Regions from separate parts of the Homo sapiens genome. Here region 1 is linked to region 2. Evidence: fine-mapped expression QTL. Tissue or cell type: spinal cord. Region 2 holds a variant in brackets; the other region holds the start of a gene. All regions are shown on one strand. Distances are between the middles of the regions.

Region 1 (8,107 bases), 46 kb after region 2:
AAATGACCTGCTAGAATCATAGGAGGAAGTTTAAGGAGGGTGTGTTGGGATAGGCCTCACCCTAGTCCTGTCTTCTTAAAAGTTTTCTTCCCTCTTGGTATCAACCTTCTCCCTTCCCACTGGACAAGAGGAGATGTGGAGAAATACGGAGAGTTACAGCACAGCCTTCCTGCCAGAGTTCCTTCAGACAGGCACTGTTAGTTTTCATTAACTATGTGTGAATTTCTCATAAAGCTAAAGACATTCAATGTAAAGAAATACTCTGCTCTCTATTCTGAAATTGTCCTTTGCACTCCTTTGGTATCGAAATGCCTTCCTTTTGCTGAAAAGTTTACATTAAAGAATATAATTTTATGCCGGGCACGGTGGCTCACGCCTGTAATCCCAACACTTTGGGAGGCTGAGGCGGGCGGATCACCTGAGGTCTGGAGTTCGAGACTAGCCTGACCAACATGGAGAAACCCTGTTTCTACTAAAAATACAAAACTAGCTAGGCATGGTGGCGCATGCCTGTAATCCCAGCTACTCGGGAGGCTGAGGCAGGAGAATTGCTTGAATCCAGGAGGCAGAGGTTGTGGTGAGCTGAGATTGCACCATTGCACTCCAGCCTGGGCAAGAAGAGTGAAACTCCGTCTAAAAAAAAAAAAAAAAGAATAGCAATAGCAATTTTAAAAAATATATTATTATCAGCCCTATCCTGGGTTACAGAAAATAAAATAAGAATAATTTTAAATGTTCTTATTTAGGAAAAGAAAAATTTGTTTGATAAAATTACAAAGGTAAGAAACACTGAATATTGATGACAAGAGGGAATGGGAGCCACGTGAATTGCTGGTGGGTGTATAAGCTTCTGCAGCCACTTTTGAGAGTAATATCACGGTATTCAATCTCTTCCTTTGTTTATGCCACAAATACTTACACAGCACGTGCTATGTGCTGTCACTGCTGTAGGTGATACATCAGCAAAAAAGAAAAAATTCCTGCCTCAATGGAGCTTACATTCTAATGGGGGAACCTACCACAAACAAACAAATACAATTCCGGGTGGTGACAAGTACATTGAAGAGAAATAAAGCAAAATATGGAGCCAGCAAATGACAGTGAGGAGATACTATTTTAGATAGCACGGTTAGCGACCATCTCTCTGAGGAAGTAATATTTGAGTGAAGTGAGGAAGTGAAACTTACAAAAATCTGGGAGGAGAATAAGAATCTTTCAGGCAGAAAGAACAGCAAGTGAGGCCCTGGAGCAAGACTAAGCATGGAATGTTCCAGCAACTGTTCTAAACACAATGTGGCTAGATCAGAGTGAGTGAGGGGGAGAGTTGTAGGAAATGAGGCCAAGGGTCAGAGAAAGGCCCGATTTGTAGGGCCCTGTAGACCATGGGAAGGTGTTTGGAACTTATTCTGAGGGTACCTATGGGGAATTTTGAGAGAAAGTAACACAATATGGTTAACATTTTAAAAGTATCTCTCTAGCGACTCAGTGAATAAATTACTGTACAAAAAGATCAATGTAGCAGGTAGAGTCATCAGGACTTGCTGATGAATTAGATTTGAGTTTTGGAATGAGTGTGCATGTAACTCATGAACATAATTCTGCAGTCTTGCTCTCAGGTGTGTATCCCATAAAGGCGCTTCAGGGCTCTGTAGGGAAGCATCATGTCCTTACCAGTACTAACTTACATGAAACTTCCTATGTGCCAACCCCTGTTCTAAGCCCTTTACATATGTTAATTCATCCAGCCCTCACAATATGTACCAAGAAGTCCATTGTGGAATTGTCTGTGGTAGCTGAGGGTGGGCAGCAACTAGGATGTTAGGGGAATGGACAAGTGCAGTGTAGCAGAAGCATAGAATATTAGGGCAGTCATGGCTGGGCGCAGTGGCTCATGCCTGTAATCCCAGCACTTTGGGAGGCTGAGGTGGGTGGATCACCTGAGGTCAGGAGTCCAAGACCAGCCTGGCCAACATGGTGAAACCCCATCTCTGCTAAAAACACAAAATTAGCCAGGCGTGGTGATGCACGCCTGTAATCCCAGCTACTCAGGAGGCTGAGGCAGGAGAACTGCTTGAACCCAGGAGGTGGAGGTTGCAGTGAGCTGATATCATGCCATTGCATGCCAGACTGGGTAATAAGAGCAAAACTGCGTCTCAAAAAAAAAGAATATTAGGGCAGTCAAAAGCAATAAACATGATGCATGTAGAGCAATCTGAACAAATTTGAAACATCTGGGATTAATTTTTAAAAGTAGAAGTGAATATAATATCTAGAACACAATGCCACTTATGTAAATTAACAACACTAAATATTTCTCAAAGCTAAAAACTGCATGTTATACCTAATGTAAATGACGAGTTAATGGGTGCAGCACACCAACATGGCACATGTATACATATGTAACAAACCTGCACGTTGTGCACATGTACCCTAGAACTTAAAGCACAAAAAAAAATAGCATGTATATGGGAACACACAGTAAACATTTTACAGTGGGTGCTTATGTGGAGGGGAGGAGGACAATAATGTGGGTGAAAGTCAACAAGGTAAGACAATAAGAGGGGGAACTTGCAAAGACCAATAATGACAGCCGGCCATGAGCAGCATCTTGAATCCCTGACAATCAGAGAGATAAGAGAACAGATTTTGGAGACAGACTTCTATTCAAATCCCAGTTTCATCATCTCAGTTTCCTCATATGCAAAATTGGGATATTAATAATTCTTCCTCAAAGGGCCTTACAAGAATTAAGTGCAGTAATATCTGTGAAGCACTTAGCATAGTGCCTGCCACATGCCGAGACACTAAAGTGAGCTGTCATCAGCAACAACAGCATTAGTTCATTACTGTAATTATCACTGAGAACACTTTATCACCAGAATGCTTATCAAATGGTGACATATATTGTCCAGATGTTATGTTGTGATAGGCCTCAAATAATTGCTCAAGTTACAAATGATAATTTCTAAATTTTTCTGCATTGTAAAGGAGTGAAGAATTAGAAATTCTGGGGAAAAGTCCTAGATGGAGTAAAAAGACTCACTTTGGGAAAAACTTAGAGGAGAGCCTAGAATAAATAAATATTTCGTGGGAAATTTTTCAAGTCAAATTCTGAGCACTGTATAATATGAACAGTATGGATGGTTCCAGAGGTTTCTAGGGACGACTATACAGTTCACAAAGTTTTGGTGTACTAAGGTTTCTTCTGAATCGAGTAAAGGGGCTGAGATCTGTGCTCTGGGGGATGAGAAGCCAAAATAGAGCCAGCTTGTGTTGCCTAAGAGGACAGCTGACAACTGCATTGCATTCTTACCATTGAGGTGGTGGCTTGGTGCAGAAGTCAGACCTCTGTGGCAGGCTGTGGATCATGTGGGAAGCCACACACTGGCCCTGAGACGAGGAATTATTAGGATGGAGGGGAAGCACAAGAGTGCTGGTCAGCCCAGGCACTCCTAAAGCAGGCAGGTGATCATCCCTGTTCCCAGTAATTAGTTCTTCTCTGCCTCCCCTACTCTTGGGCACATTGTCAAATATGTCCCTACTTTGTTTGAAATCTACAGGACTCTATCTCTTTTATCAAAACCTGCACTCAAAACATGATCTGAAGTGACCAGCATAATTTAAATGACCAGTCACATTTTCCTAAGAGGCATTTGCATTTTTAAAAGGGGCTAGTCCATTAAGCAAAATATGAGGGGACTCTCAGAGTGGAACTTCAGGCATCAGCAAGAGGGGAAGATACTATCTTCCTGGGAGTTGACAGTACCTGATAATTGATCTCCTTCCCATCAGATTTCCAAGGGATCAAGGTGCCCCGGTTCTAAACAACCACAGGTAAGGACAGGATAGAGTCCAAGGAGACACACTATCAGGCTGGAAAATTCATTAAGTATTTACATGAAAATTCAGGTTCTCCTCATTGCTCAGGTACGGTCACATGGCTCAGAAAGCACAAGAAGTAGAGCCCCGAGGTCAGATCTGAGAGGCTTCTGAGGGGCCGATGCAGTGACTTCTCTGCTGCAGGTCAGGAGTTCTGGAACTGGGGCGTGGCTGGGGAGGGGTTGCAGGGAAGGGTGGGAGGAAGGAAGAAAAGAACAAGTGATTGGAAGTGCCACAGGATGAGCTCATTGGGATGGGTAGGAAAGAAGAGTTTTCTAACTTCTTAAGAATTTAAGAATTTATGAGAACTCAAGATTTCAGGAAGGGAGGAAGAAGAAACACATTGCATTTCTATCCTTGACTGGGGAACTAGATGATAGGGATGTGAAGGGTGGTTGGTGAGTCATGCCTTTTCGTCTACTCATTGTGGCAGGATGTGAGCTCTGGGGGCAGGCAACCGAACACTGACCTCTCTAGGTCTCATGCCAATGTCTGTCATCAGGAGTGAGCAGGAAAAAGGTCCTTAAGGACATGAGGCCGTGTCTTCCTCAGCTGAGCCTTGCAGGGCTGGCTGGAAGGTGGAGAAGGGATGGGATGGGAGTGGGATGTCAATGGGAGCCTGAAGATGGCGGGGTCATCTGCTGGAGCCTGGGGTTCTATGGGGCTCTCTTGTGCTGTGGAGGGCACAAGTTCTGCAGGCCTTCCTTTCAGTAGTCAGGGCTGGCCTGAGCTGTGAGGTGGCTGTAGATGCGGTAGATGAGACAGTGCCTGGCACTTGGGATACCTGATATTCAGCCTGTCTCCCACTGGTTCTGGTCTGCTATCTTCAGGAACTAGGAGTGGGTGGGAGAAGCAGCAATGTCTCCTAGTACTCAGTGGCATCCACTGGCCACATTCTTTCTCTCTGTTCCCCATCTCATGCCAGTGCATCTCCATCCTTCTGCAGCTGCTGCAGTCAGATCCATCATGTGGCCACTGACAGCCCTTCTGCTCCTGGGTGAGTCCACAGTGAGGCAGCAGAAGAGCTTTGGGTGGTGGAGAATAGGGTGGACCAAGGTATGGGGAGAGGAGGGTGGGTATCCAATCCTCAGTTTCCAAGTGGTTCATTATCTTTTTTTGGAGGGGTGAAGAAGAAGGGGCTTTCTCAGAGCTTGGGAAACCAGGGGCAGAAGAAGAAAAACAGGTTTTGGGACCATTCAGCCTTTCTTGTCGTCAAGAGTCTCTCTCCTCTCATCGCCAATATTCTCCTTCTCCTTCCTCTTCCTTCTTTCCTGTTCTGCAGTTCCAAGCAGTGGGCAAGCTGGTGAGTCTTATAAATTTCTCATCCCAATTTTCTACAGCTTCCACTCCAACCCCCTAAGTGACCTTTTCAAGTAGACTCCTCACTTCTTGGCTGCGCTGGGATAGTGTCTCTTCCCACTCTCGTCAACCCCTGGGACTAAATTTGCTTGAAGGCATTTAGAAATGGGTGCTGGCTGATGGACTGGTAGTCTGTAACCCAATGAATGTGATCTCCTCTCCTGCAGGGATGGGTTAGTACATGGGCTGGGGCCTGCGAGCTGGGGTTTCCTAAGATTTCCCAAACTCAGGTCGTTTCTTTGGGCACCTCACCTTGATTCTCTTTGCATGCTGCCCCCTCTCACCCCACTCCCCACCCCAGCTACTCTGGAGAAGCCCATATTGTCTCTACATCCACCTTGGACCACCATCTTCAAAGGGGAGCGGGTAACTTTGAAGTGTGATGGATACCACCCACTGCTCCTGGAGCTCCAGCCCATCAGCACTCTCTGGTATTTGGGCCACCTACTTCTGCCCTCTCACAAGAAGAGCATTGAGGTGCAGACACCAGGGGTGTATCGATGCCAGACACGGGGAGCACCCGTCAGTGACCCCATCCACCTCTCTGTATCCAATGGTGAGTGGACTGAGCACGAGGGGAGGGGGAGCACGTGTCTCCTCTGGCAATACTAGTCCTCTGGTGGGAGGGAACACTGGGCCAATCCCAAGGTGCAGGAAACAAGGGCCACACTGGGGCCTATCTTAAGTCTCTGGAGCAGGTAGGGACCTGCACGGCACTATGCGAGAGATGCAGTAAGGCATGCCTAGCCCCCAAGGTCCCCTTACCCTCCTGCCATAGTGTGAGGCACAGTGTGAACATTTCTGTTTGTTTCTGAGACCAGCTCAGAAGAGCAAAGGCTCCAAGGACCTGGAGTGCTGGACAGAGAACTTTAGGGGGTTGGGGAGGGAGCAGTAAAGGAAATTCACCAAACAGGAAAGGTGAGTTTCCCTGGCAGTCTGAGCATAGATCAAGGATCTACTCTCAGTTGAACAGTGTGATGCTTCTCTGTGCCTCAGTGTCCACATCTGTAAAGAAGGGACAATAATAGTATGTATCTCTTCGGCTGCTCTGAGGATTAAAAGTGAATTATGATTTGCTAAAGAAAAAAAGCAGCAATTGAACTGAGCACTTACTCAAAGTTTTATTGCAGACGTGTATATGTGTACACAGGAGTCAGCTGAGAAACTGATTCTCGAGATGCTTGAAGGGTTTTAAAACAGGATAAGAAAAATAACAATAATTTGTTCAATAAAGTACAGGATTGCTGGGCACGGTGGCTCAAGCCTGTGATCCCAGCACTTTGGGAGGCCAAGGCGGGCAGATCACCTGAGGTCAGGAGTTCAAGACCAGCCTGGCCAACATGGTGAAACACTCTCTACTAAAAAAAAAAAAAAAAAAAAAAATAGCTGGGCATGATAGCGGGTGCCTGTAGTCCCAGCTACTCAGGAGGCTGAGGCATGAGAATTGTTTGAACCTGGGAGGCGGAAGTTGCAGTGAGCTGAGATCGTGCACTCCTAGCCACAATTTGTATTCAGAATTTAAAGCACATCACTCAATGTTCAGATTAGCACTTACACACACTTCATATTCATACTCTGTGGTTTCTTGTTCGGAAATCATTGGTGATAGCAATAATTATACTGAGTACTATAGGAGTAATTACTGCTTACAGATTGGGAGTGCATGTGGATTGTGGCTATTACTTGCAGGATTCTTTCTCAATGTACAACACCTAAAATGGCATCTGCTCTGTGCTAGGGCTATGTAAGCGTGCTATAATGATCACAGGGTAATTATGAGGTGCTGTAGGAGATACCTAAGGCTCTCCTGGGGTGTCAGGGATGTTTTCTGGAGGAGATAAGGTCTAAGCCTAGACATGCAGGACAAGCAGGTGAACTTAAACAGGTGAAAGAGAGTCTTCTTGGCTGAGGAAATAGCAGGTACAAAAGCCTCGGGCTCAGAGCAGGGCCAGTTCTCTCAACAGTTCAGTATGGCTGGAACTTATCCTGTTAGGAGTGGAAGATGAGGAAAGTAGAGAGGAAATGGGGCAGGAATGAATACTGCCATGGTGAGGGAGAGGTAAGCAGGACCCAGTCAGGAGGACTCTGACACCATCCTAAGGAGGTTATAGTTGATTCTCATGGTCAAAACCCTTTGAGGGTGGAGCCAAGTCTCTGGCATCTTTGCTCCCTGGCTAAGTGAAAGACCAGCCATCCCCCTTCCTTCCCACTCACCTACAAATATATCTTGCACTATGAGGCTGCTGGGTGCCAACCACCAGGGAAGGCCTGTCCGCTCAAGAAAGCAGTGGGAGGCCAGGCCCGGTGGCTCACGCCTGTAATCCCACCACTTTGGGAGGCCGAGGTGGGCGTATCACCTGAGGTCAGGAGTTCAAGACCAGCCTGGCCAAGATGGTGAAACCCTGTCTCTACTAAAAAATGCAAAAATTAGCTGGGTGTGATGGCGCCCACCGGTAATCCCAGCTACTCGGGAGGCTGAGGCAGAAGAATCGCTTGAACCCAAGAGGTGGAGGTTGCAGTGAACCGAGTTTGTGCCACTGCACTGCAGCTTGGGCGACAAGAGCAAGACCATGTCTCAAAAAAAGAAAAAGAACAAGAAAAAAAGAAAGAAAAAGAAAAGAAAAGAAAGCGGTGGGAGATGGCGGGGAAGGGAGGGAGAGGAGTTAAGAGGAGAAAGCTGGAAGGCTGTGAGAGTGGGAGATCTCCAGGGCTGGACTTTCTGTGGAGTCAAGCGTGTCTGTGGTGTCTGTCGCAGATTGGCTGATTCTGCAAGTGCCCTATGCGCCAGTGTTCGAGGGTGAGCCGCTAGTCCTGCGCTGCCGCGGCTGGTACGACAAGGTGGTCTACAAGCTTCACTACTACCACGACG
Region 2 (8,099 bases):
GAGAATCAGTGTTTCCCTGCCCCCGCCCCGCCCTCCATGCCCCTTCTCCACGTTCTCACTGTGCTAGGTGCTCTTCTCTGTCTTTCTCTTCCACCAGCCTGTGGGAAACCTGAGATGAAAGTCGTGTCTTACCCATCTTTGTATTTCCAGCATCTGAAACTGGGCAGAGCTTAATAAATATTTTGCTGGAGAGGTTGATGATCTTACAAAGCTCCCATTGAAAGGTGGCTCTCTGTAAAGCAAAGTTACAATGAGATTGTGATGAACATTGTCCTTGTGGCTTTTCACTTAGTCCCCTCCCTTCACCTGAAGAGCAAATTTTCCTCAAAAGTACACAGCAAACGAATGACCCACTGGTGACACTGCTGCCTTTAGACCCTGCTGGAAAGAAGCTCCACATTTATTAACATTCCCGAAGTAAATTTATCAGGTAGCATTCATCAGGTAACATTTGTTGCACATTCATGACTTTTCTACTGTCCACAAAGGCATATGTCCTTATCATATGCGGACTCCTCGGTCACACTGGATTCTTCCTTCCCTCCTCGACATGGAAGAGATGGCATCTTAGGGTCTCTTGTGTTCTTCCTGCAGAGGCCTGTCGGGCAGGAAAAGGCTGCAGCTGCCTTCCTGGGAGAAGGAGGAGATGAGTGTATCCTGAACACCTATTATGTGCTAGGGGCTATTGTAGATACATGACACTATCATGCTCATTTTCACGAATGAGGAAACTGAGGCTCAGAAGACTTAAATTATTTGCCCAAGAGTTCATAAATGACAGAGCCAGCATTAGAGTCCAGGACTGTCTGATTTCAGACCTAAGCTGTTCCCTCTGCACATCGTGTCCCACCAGTAAGGAAGATCTGGGTCTCAGAGCTGAGCCAAGACCTCCCGGGTCCTCTGCGGTTTTTTGTGTCTTTCAGAGTGGCTGGTGCTCCAGACCCCTCACCTGGAGTTCCAGGAGGGAGAAACCATCGTGCTGAGGTGCCACAGCTGGAAGGACAAGCCTCTGGTCAAGGTCACATTCTTCCAGAATGGAAAATCCAAGAAATTTTCCCGTTCGGATCCCAACTTCTCCATCCCACAAGCAAACCACAGTCACAGTGGTGATTACCACTGCACAGGAAACATAGGCTACACGCTGTACTCATCCAAGCCTGTGACCATCACTGTCCAAGGTATGCGGAGTCTGCCAAGATGTAAGGAGGGGAGAAGAGGGGATGGACAAGGGCTGAGGTCACATGGGCCTACATGGAGGTCTGAGAAAGGCCACAGCGCAAAATTGGGCACTGGAGCAAAGAGGAGTGGTGTGGAGGCCTGGCTAAGTATTGACCAATGAGCAGGAGTAGGGGCCAGAGCTTGGAGCCCTCAGGTGATAGGTGACCAGGCTGTTGTTCCACTTTGAAATGCAGGCCCCAGACTAAGGACGGCAGCGAAGCAGAGCTCCCTCGTTGGTGCAGAGGTTCCCTAAGCTCCTGGGCATTCCTAAGAACTGAGGTTTGCCTTTATTCTTCTCATGGCTCATGTTACAGCCATTCACTCCAGAAAGCCTGGCACGTCATGGACCGTTCAAGGCTGTGCTCCATAGAGTAATGATGCCTCCAGCTATGCGAGGCTTTGGGCCCACCCTTCCCACTGCCCCTGAGGGCTAAGGGGAGCCCTTCCCTCTGTTCCTGCCTGCTCACAAATGTACCTTTATTAGTTTGGTGGAGAAACCTCGGTAAGCAGGAGGCATAAGTCCAGCCACAGAAACCCTGTGCAGATGAGGCTGGGGATGTAGTGAGTGCTGCAGAAGTGAGTGACTCAGACACAGAAGAGCTTCGGGTGACAAGCACTAGGACATAGCATTGGATGGGGGGGAGGTGGGACAAGGAGAGTACTGCCTGTCCTGATGTCTGTCTTCCCTAGCTCCCAGCTCTTCACCGATGGGGATCATTGTGGCTGTGGTCACTGGGATTGCTGTAGCGGCCATTGTTGCTGCTGTAGTGGCCTTGATCTACTGCAGGAAAAAGCGGATTTCAGGTTTGTAGCTCCTCCCGGTCCCTTTGGTTATCAGTTTCCACTTGGCCCAGGCCCTAACCCCAGACATTGCCAGAATCCCTCTCTTTGGGCTAGATACACATTCAGATCTAGGCCCGTATTGTATTATAGTCATTCATTCGTTTATTAGATCATTCATTTGACAAGACTTGAACAAACTAGCTTATGTGTCAGCCAATGCGTGAGACATGGTGGGTGATGCCAAGAGAAGTCCAGTCCCTGCCCTTGGGGAGTTCTCAGCATTGTGAGGAAGACAGGGTCATTATAATAAGATGGGATAAGAGCAATGATAGGGACATGAAAAGCCTAGGATAGAAGTACAGAGGAGGCTCCATAGCCCAACAAGGGCTGAGGCAGTTGGAGAAGGTCTTGGGGAGAGCAGTGTAGTGTAGTGATGGAGTGCACATAGTGGGGCCAGACTGCCTGAGTTCAAATCTAGTTCTACAGCATACCAACTATATGACCCAAGTGAGTCACTCCACCTCTCTGTGCCTCAGCTGTCTCAAGTGGAAAATGGGGACACTAATAGGACTTACCTCAGAGGGTTGCCATGGGGATGAAAGAGGCTGATGCTCTTACACAGTGCCTGGTAGGCAGTAACAGCACACAAACAGGGCTGTTGCCATTCTGGAGGAGGTGGTGTGTGAGGGCAGCGCTTAGCTAGGGAAGGAGGACCCTCCAGGCACTGGGCCAAGGCAGGGATTGAAGCCGGGTGGGGCTCATATGGGTGTCGAAGGGGGAGTAGAGAGGGTACTGCAAGCCACCAAGAAAGAAAGAATCCTGCTAACACCTCACAAAGCACTTTTCAATTGGTTCATAGCCAACACCTCAGTTACTGATGATAAGTAAATACAGAGAAACAGAGAGAGAGAGACTGAGACACAGGGGTGTTTTTAAAAGGCAGAGCAAGCCTCAGACAGATGCCATGGCGTGGACTTTCTGACACTCCTGGGCATCCCCATGGGTGAGCTGAATTCTGCCTCTGGACCAGCCCTTTTCCAGGCGGGAGCAGCCTCTGAGCAGGGGAGCTGGGGGTGGGAGGACAGGAAACATCTGCCAGAGTGAAGGCCTGAGCTGGTCCCATCCAACCCTGGCCCTGGTCCTTGGTCCTGAGGACTCAGGCCCCACCGCCTAATCCTACTAACCTCCTGTGTGCCCCTCCCAGCTCTCCCAGGATACCCTGAGTGCAGGGAAATGGGAGAGACCCTCCCTGAGAAACCAGGTGAGTACAGGTTGTCTCAGGGATTCAGTGATGGCTCACCAGGGCTGCCGGCTGGACTGGAGCCAGGGAGAAGGGGCTTGTGCAAGTTCAGCTGGGAGCCAGGGAGGGAGCAGCAGTGGGAGGATGGCTGGGGCTCAAATCGCTTGGTCAGCTCTTAGTCTAACTCCTGGGCCTAAAGACGACCTCTCTGGAGATGAGAAGAGAAACACCAGTCCCAGATACAGAAGAGAGGGCTGTGTCCGAATTTCTGGTACCAGGAATCTGGTGATATTTCCAGAGCAAGAAATCAGAGATACTTTGGTCTTCCTGTGGAGCTTTGGCAGAGCTGGCAAAGGATGGGGTTAGGGGCTGTAAGACTGAGGCCAATAGGACGTGGGAGGCAGGAGTCTAAGGGGAAAGGAGGAGGAGGCCTGGAAACCCCTTGATTTGCTGAGGAATCTGCCTCTGTGGAGGGATGGGGTGGAGTGGCCAGGCTCAGCTGTCTGTGGAACACTAGGAGGAGGTTTGGGCTTGAGAAAATTCTGGGGGACTAGGGGCACTAGTGGGCTCTACTCTGTGGGCAAAACTCAGTTCTGATGCCCATGCACTCAAGGTTGACTGAATTTTGGCCTGGTTCTGCCCTCATCACACAGTGGAGCCCTGAGCAAGTCAGTCTCCCTGATGGGGTTCAGTCTCCTCACTGAGGAAATGAGTGGGTGGCCAGGGTGACCTCTCAGGTCTTCTAGATTTGACATTCTGAGAACCAGGGGCCACCCAAGCCCTGGCCCAGGTGGGAGTGTGTAAAGGAACTTCCAGGAGGATGCCAGGCAACTTCCAGACTGTAGTTAAAGTCAGAGCACAAAGGAAACCAGTGCTTTCTCTGGGGGCTTCCATGACAGTAAGAACAGGCAGAAAAAAGAGGCTGTCAAAGACCCCACCTCAGATGGCTGGAGTATGATTCAGAGCAGAGCCAACAGATTTAAGAGCTTGAGCAAAATATCACTTGTTCAGCTGTGCTTGCAGCAAGGTCGCATGTCTGCTGGCCAGGCCCAGTGGTGATAGGGGCCTGTGTTCACACCAGGGCCAAAACAGATCTGGAAAAAACAAAGTCCAAGCAACTGGATTATCCATCTTGTTGTGTGGTTCTGTCTGCACTGGCATAAGCACATTTCACAAGGCACTTTTGCAGCCAGGCATTGGGGCTGCATAAATGGTTTTTTAAAAATCCTTTCCCAAAAGGCAAAGCTGGGTTGCTGGGATTCTTGGGAAATGTAATAGAATGGGAATTCAGAATGCGGTTTACTGCAGAATTTACAGCATGGCAATAAAGGCTCTCTATGTTCAGGGGGTGAGAGAAGAGACTAGATGCATTGTCTCAGATGTCTCCTGACTTCCTGAGAAATGCCACTTTGCAGAT[A/AC]TGGGGCTGCTTTTCACACTGGCTAAGTCAGTTCATGGCAAAATATGAGGGAATTCAGTGTGTTTCAGACACTAACCAAAGTCCATCCTTCCTTTCTCCTTCCGTCCCTCCCTTCCTCCCTTTCTCACTCACTCTCTCTTTCTTTTTAATGCCATGGAGTACCATATTTTTCAAAGTTCCAACAAAGATGCACTACATTTAGACAATGTGGAAATGGCCCTCAGCCTTCTCTCCCTGAAGTCTGTGGCCAGCAAAAATCTGGACTTTACTTCACTCTGATGCTGAACACCCCCCTCCCCCACCTCTTCCCCAATATCTCAGATCCCAAGCCTCCCTGGTTTGCTTCTAGGAAAGCTCAGCAATTCCCTGAAAAGAATGCAGCTCAAGTGACTGCTCCACTTTTTCACCTTGGCCTTTGCGGAAGGCTGTGGCTGGGCTACCCTATGCATCGATCAATGAGGTCATATTTACCCAGTGCTTGGCCTAGAGGCCCAAGACAGGGTCAGCAGTGCTTGCTTTGGCTCTAGTTTGGGCGTTGGTTTTGCAGCCTCAGCATCAGCACAGGCAGGCCCTCTTCTCCAGCAGTGCTCTGGCTGATATTTCTTCTTTTTCCCACAGCCAATCCCACTAATCCTGATGAGGCTGACAAAGTTGGGGTGAGTGATCCCAGCCATCTCCCCCTCCCTTCTCCCCTGTTGCCTTTTCTGTTGCCTTCTTTCCTAGGCCCTCTCTGTGGATCCTTACTGCTGGTTTCTGCCTTCTCTAGGCTGAGAACACAATCACCTATTCACTTCTCATGCACCCGGATGCTCTGGAAGAGCCTGATGACCAGAACCGTATTTAGTCTCCATTGTCTTGCATTGGGATTTGAGAAGAAAATCAGAGAGGGAAGATCTGGTATTTCCTGGCCTAAATTCCCCTTGGGGAGGACAGGGAGATGCTGCAGTTCCAAAAGAGAAGGTTTCTTCCAGAGTCATCTACCTGAGTCCTGAAGCTCCCTGTCCTGAAAGCCACAGACAATATGGTCCCAAATAACCGACTGCACCTTCTGTGCTTCAGCTCTTCTTGACATCAAGGCTCTTCCGTTCCACATCCACACAGCCAATCCAATTAATCAAACCACTGTTATTAACAGATAATAGCAACTTGGGAAATGCTTATGTTACAGGTTACGTGAGAACAATCATGTAAATCTATATGATTTCAGAAATGTTAAAATAGACTAACCTCTACCAGCACATTAAAAGTGATTGTTTCTGGGTGATAAAATTATTGATGATTTTTATTTTCTTTATTTTTCTATAAAGATCATATATTACTTTTATAATAAAACATTATAAAAACAACATTCTGTTTACCTTTTCAAGGCTGTATTGGTTGGAGTGTAGACTGAACTGCCTGGGGTCTGTTTCTCTTCAGTGATGAGACTCTTAGGAAGGCAGGAATGGATAGGATAGGGGGAGGAGAGGAGAGATGGGGATTTAGAATGTAGAGTGAGTGCCCCTTTTCTTAAAACTGAATACAGTCACGCACCACATAATGATGTTTAGTTCAACAACAGACTGCATATATGATGGTGATCCCATAAAATTATAATACCATATTTCTATTGTACCTTTTCTATTCCTATGTTTAGATATATGAGTACTTACCATTGTGTTACAATTGCCTAAAGTATTCAGTACAGTAGCATGCTGTACAGGTTTGTAGCCTAGGGGCAATAGGCTATACGCTACAGCCTAGGTGTGTAGTAGGCCACACCATTTAGGTTTGTATAAGTACCTGCTATGATGTTCACACAACAAAATTGCCTGCATTTCTCAAAATGTATCCCCATATTTCAACAATGCATGACTGTACTCTTCTGCCAATGACCTTGTATTCTTGTTTCCATGTCTTCTTCTCTTTCCTCCTATGGCAAATAAAACACTGTTTTGCAACACAAGTTCACGGGAAGTCAAACTTCAGATGAGCCCTGAGTGGAGATTGCTGACATGTCCTGCTCTGCTATTCTCCCAATGTAGTTACCAGAAGGATGTGACCTTCTCAGAGAAGTCATCTCAGGCAGATTAGAAACATGACTGGCAGTCTCCTTGAGGGTTTGGTGAGTGCCCTTGGAGAGGCTTCATTTTCCTGGGACTCTACGCAGTAACATCGTGCAACATTTGTTGCACTTTTTATGGTAGGATAAAAAGTACTCACTTTTTATGGTCCCACAATCAGATTTCATACACACTTATTGTTTTAGTAATAAGGGATAATAATTAAAATTACTGCGTTATTAAGGACTTACTTTGTGCCATATAGTTTGTGCCAAACTATATGCTTTAGAATTTAGAGAATTTACGATTAGCCTTTTATATTTCCTCTTTTGTGAGTTTCCTGTGTATTTATTCTTTGCCCATTTTTGTAGATACAATGTATGTCCCTTTATTTATAAATTGCATAGTAGTAACTTATTTCCTTTTATTTATATGTAAATTATTTCACTACACTAATAATGTATTCTTTTTATAAAATTAAGATACAGATAGGGAAAACAAAAAAATTAGATCGCCCATAAATCCATAAACCAGAAATAATTAATGCTAACATTTAAGGATATCAATCCATATTCCTGTCTGTGGCAGTGTGTATTTGTGTTTTAAAAATTGGATCTAATCCCAGCTACTCGAGAGGCTGAGACAGGAGAATCGCTTGAACCTGGGAAGCAGAGGTTGCAGCGAGCTGAGATCGCACCATTGCACTTCAGCCTGGGCAACAAGAGTGAAACTCTGTCTCAAAAAAAAAAAAAAATTGGATCATATCATATATTTTACATGTTAATAAATACACTCAGGCAAAAATGTATGCTCATTGTAAGCATGTAAGCCCAAATAATACAGAAAGATAAGGAGTAAAAAGTAGAAGTTCCATTTTGTCATCAGTTCCCTCTATCCTCTTCCCTTTTCTTTCTTTCTTTTTTTTTTTTTTTTAAGAGATAGGGTTGTAGTCCAGGCTGGAGTGCAGTGGCAGGATCACAGCTCATTGCAGCCTCAAACTCCTGGGCTCAAGTGGTCTTCCCACCTCAGCCTTCCTAGTAGCTGGGACTACCACACCTGGCTAATTTTTAAGAATTTTTTGGCCGGGCATGGTGGCTCACGCCTGTAATCCCAGCACTTTGGGAGGCCGAGGCGGGTGGATCATGATGTCAGGAGATCGAGACCATCCTGGCTAACACAGTGGAACCCCGTCTCTACTAAAAAAAATACAAAAAAAAAAAAATTAGCTGGGCTTGGTGGCGGGTGCCTGTATCCCAGCTACTCGGGAGGCTGAGGCAGGAGAAGGCGTGAACCCGGGAGGCAGAGCTTGTAGTGAGCCAAGATTGCACCACTGCACTCCAGCCTGGGCGACAGAGACTCCGTCTCAAAAAAAAAAAAAAAAAAAAGAACTTTTTGGCTG

Evidence for each region. PIP is the estimated chance that this variant, and not a neighbour inherited with it, causes the effect.
Region 1: it holds the start of FCRLB, and the variant in region 2 is fine-mapped to the expression of FCRLB in spinal cord (GTEx, PIP above 0.99).

Annotation. Positions count from the first base shown.
Region 1 is chr1:161,717,828-161,725,934 of GRCh38, forward strand. FCRLB (Fc receptor like B) reads left to right here and starts at 3,717. Exons shown (of 8, transcript NM_001002901.4): 1 at 3,717-3,834; 2 at 3,928-4,023; 3 at 4,826-4,876; 4 at 5,162-5,182; 5 at 5,540-5,794; 6 at 7,994-8,107. The coding sequence starts at 4,846. RefSeq lists a silencer at 1,070-1,119 and enhancers at 4,499-4,598, 4,679-4,778.
Region 2 is chr1:161,672,052-161,680,150 of GRCh38, forward strand. FCGR2B (Fc gamma receptor IIb) reads left to right here. Exons shown (of 8, transcript NM_001394477.1): 4 at 924-1,178; 5 at 1,909-2,022; 6 at 3,206-3,262; 7 at 5,277-5,314; 8 at 5,425-6,603. The coding sequence ends at 5,502. Among named protein-coding and RNA genes, the nearest start is that of FCGR2B, 13 kb to the left of the region's middle. The variant A/AC (reference allele first, on the strand shown) is at 4,659.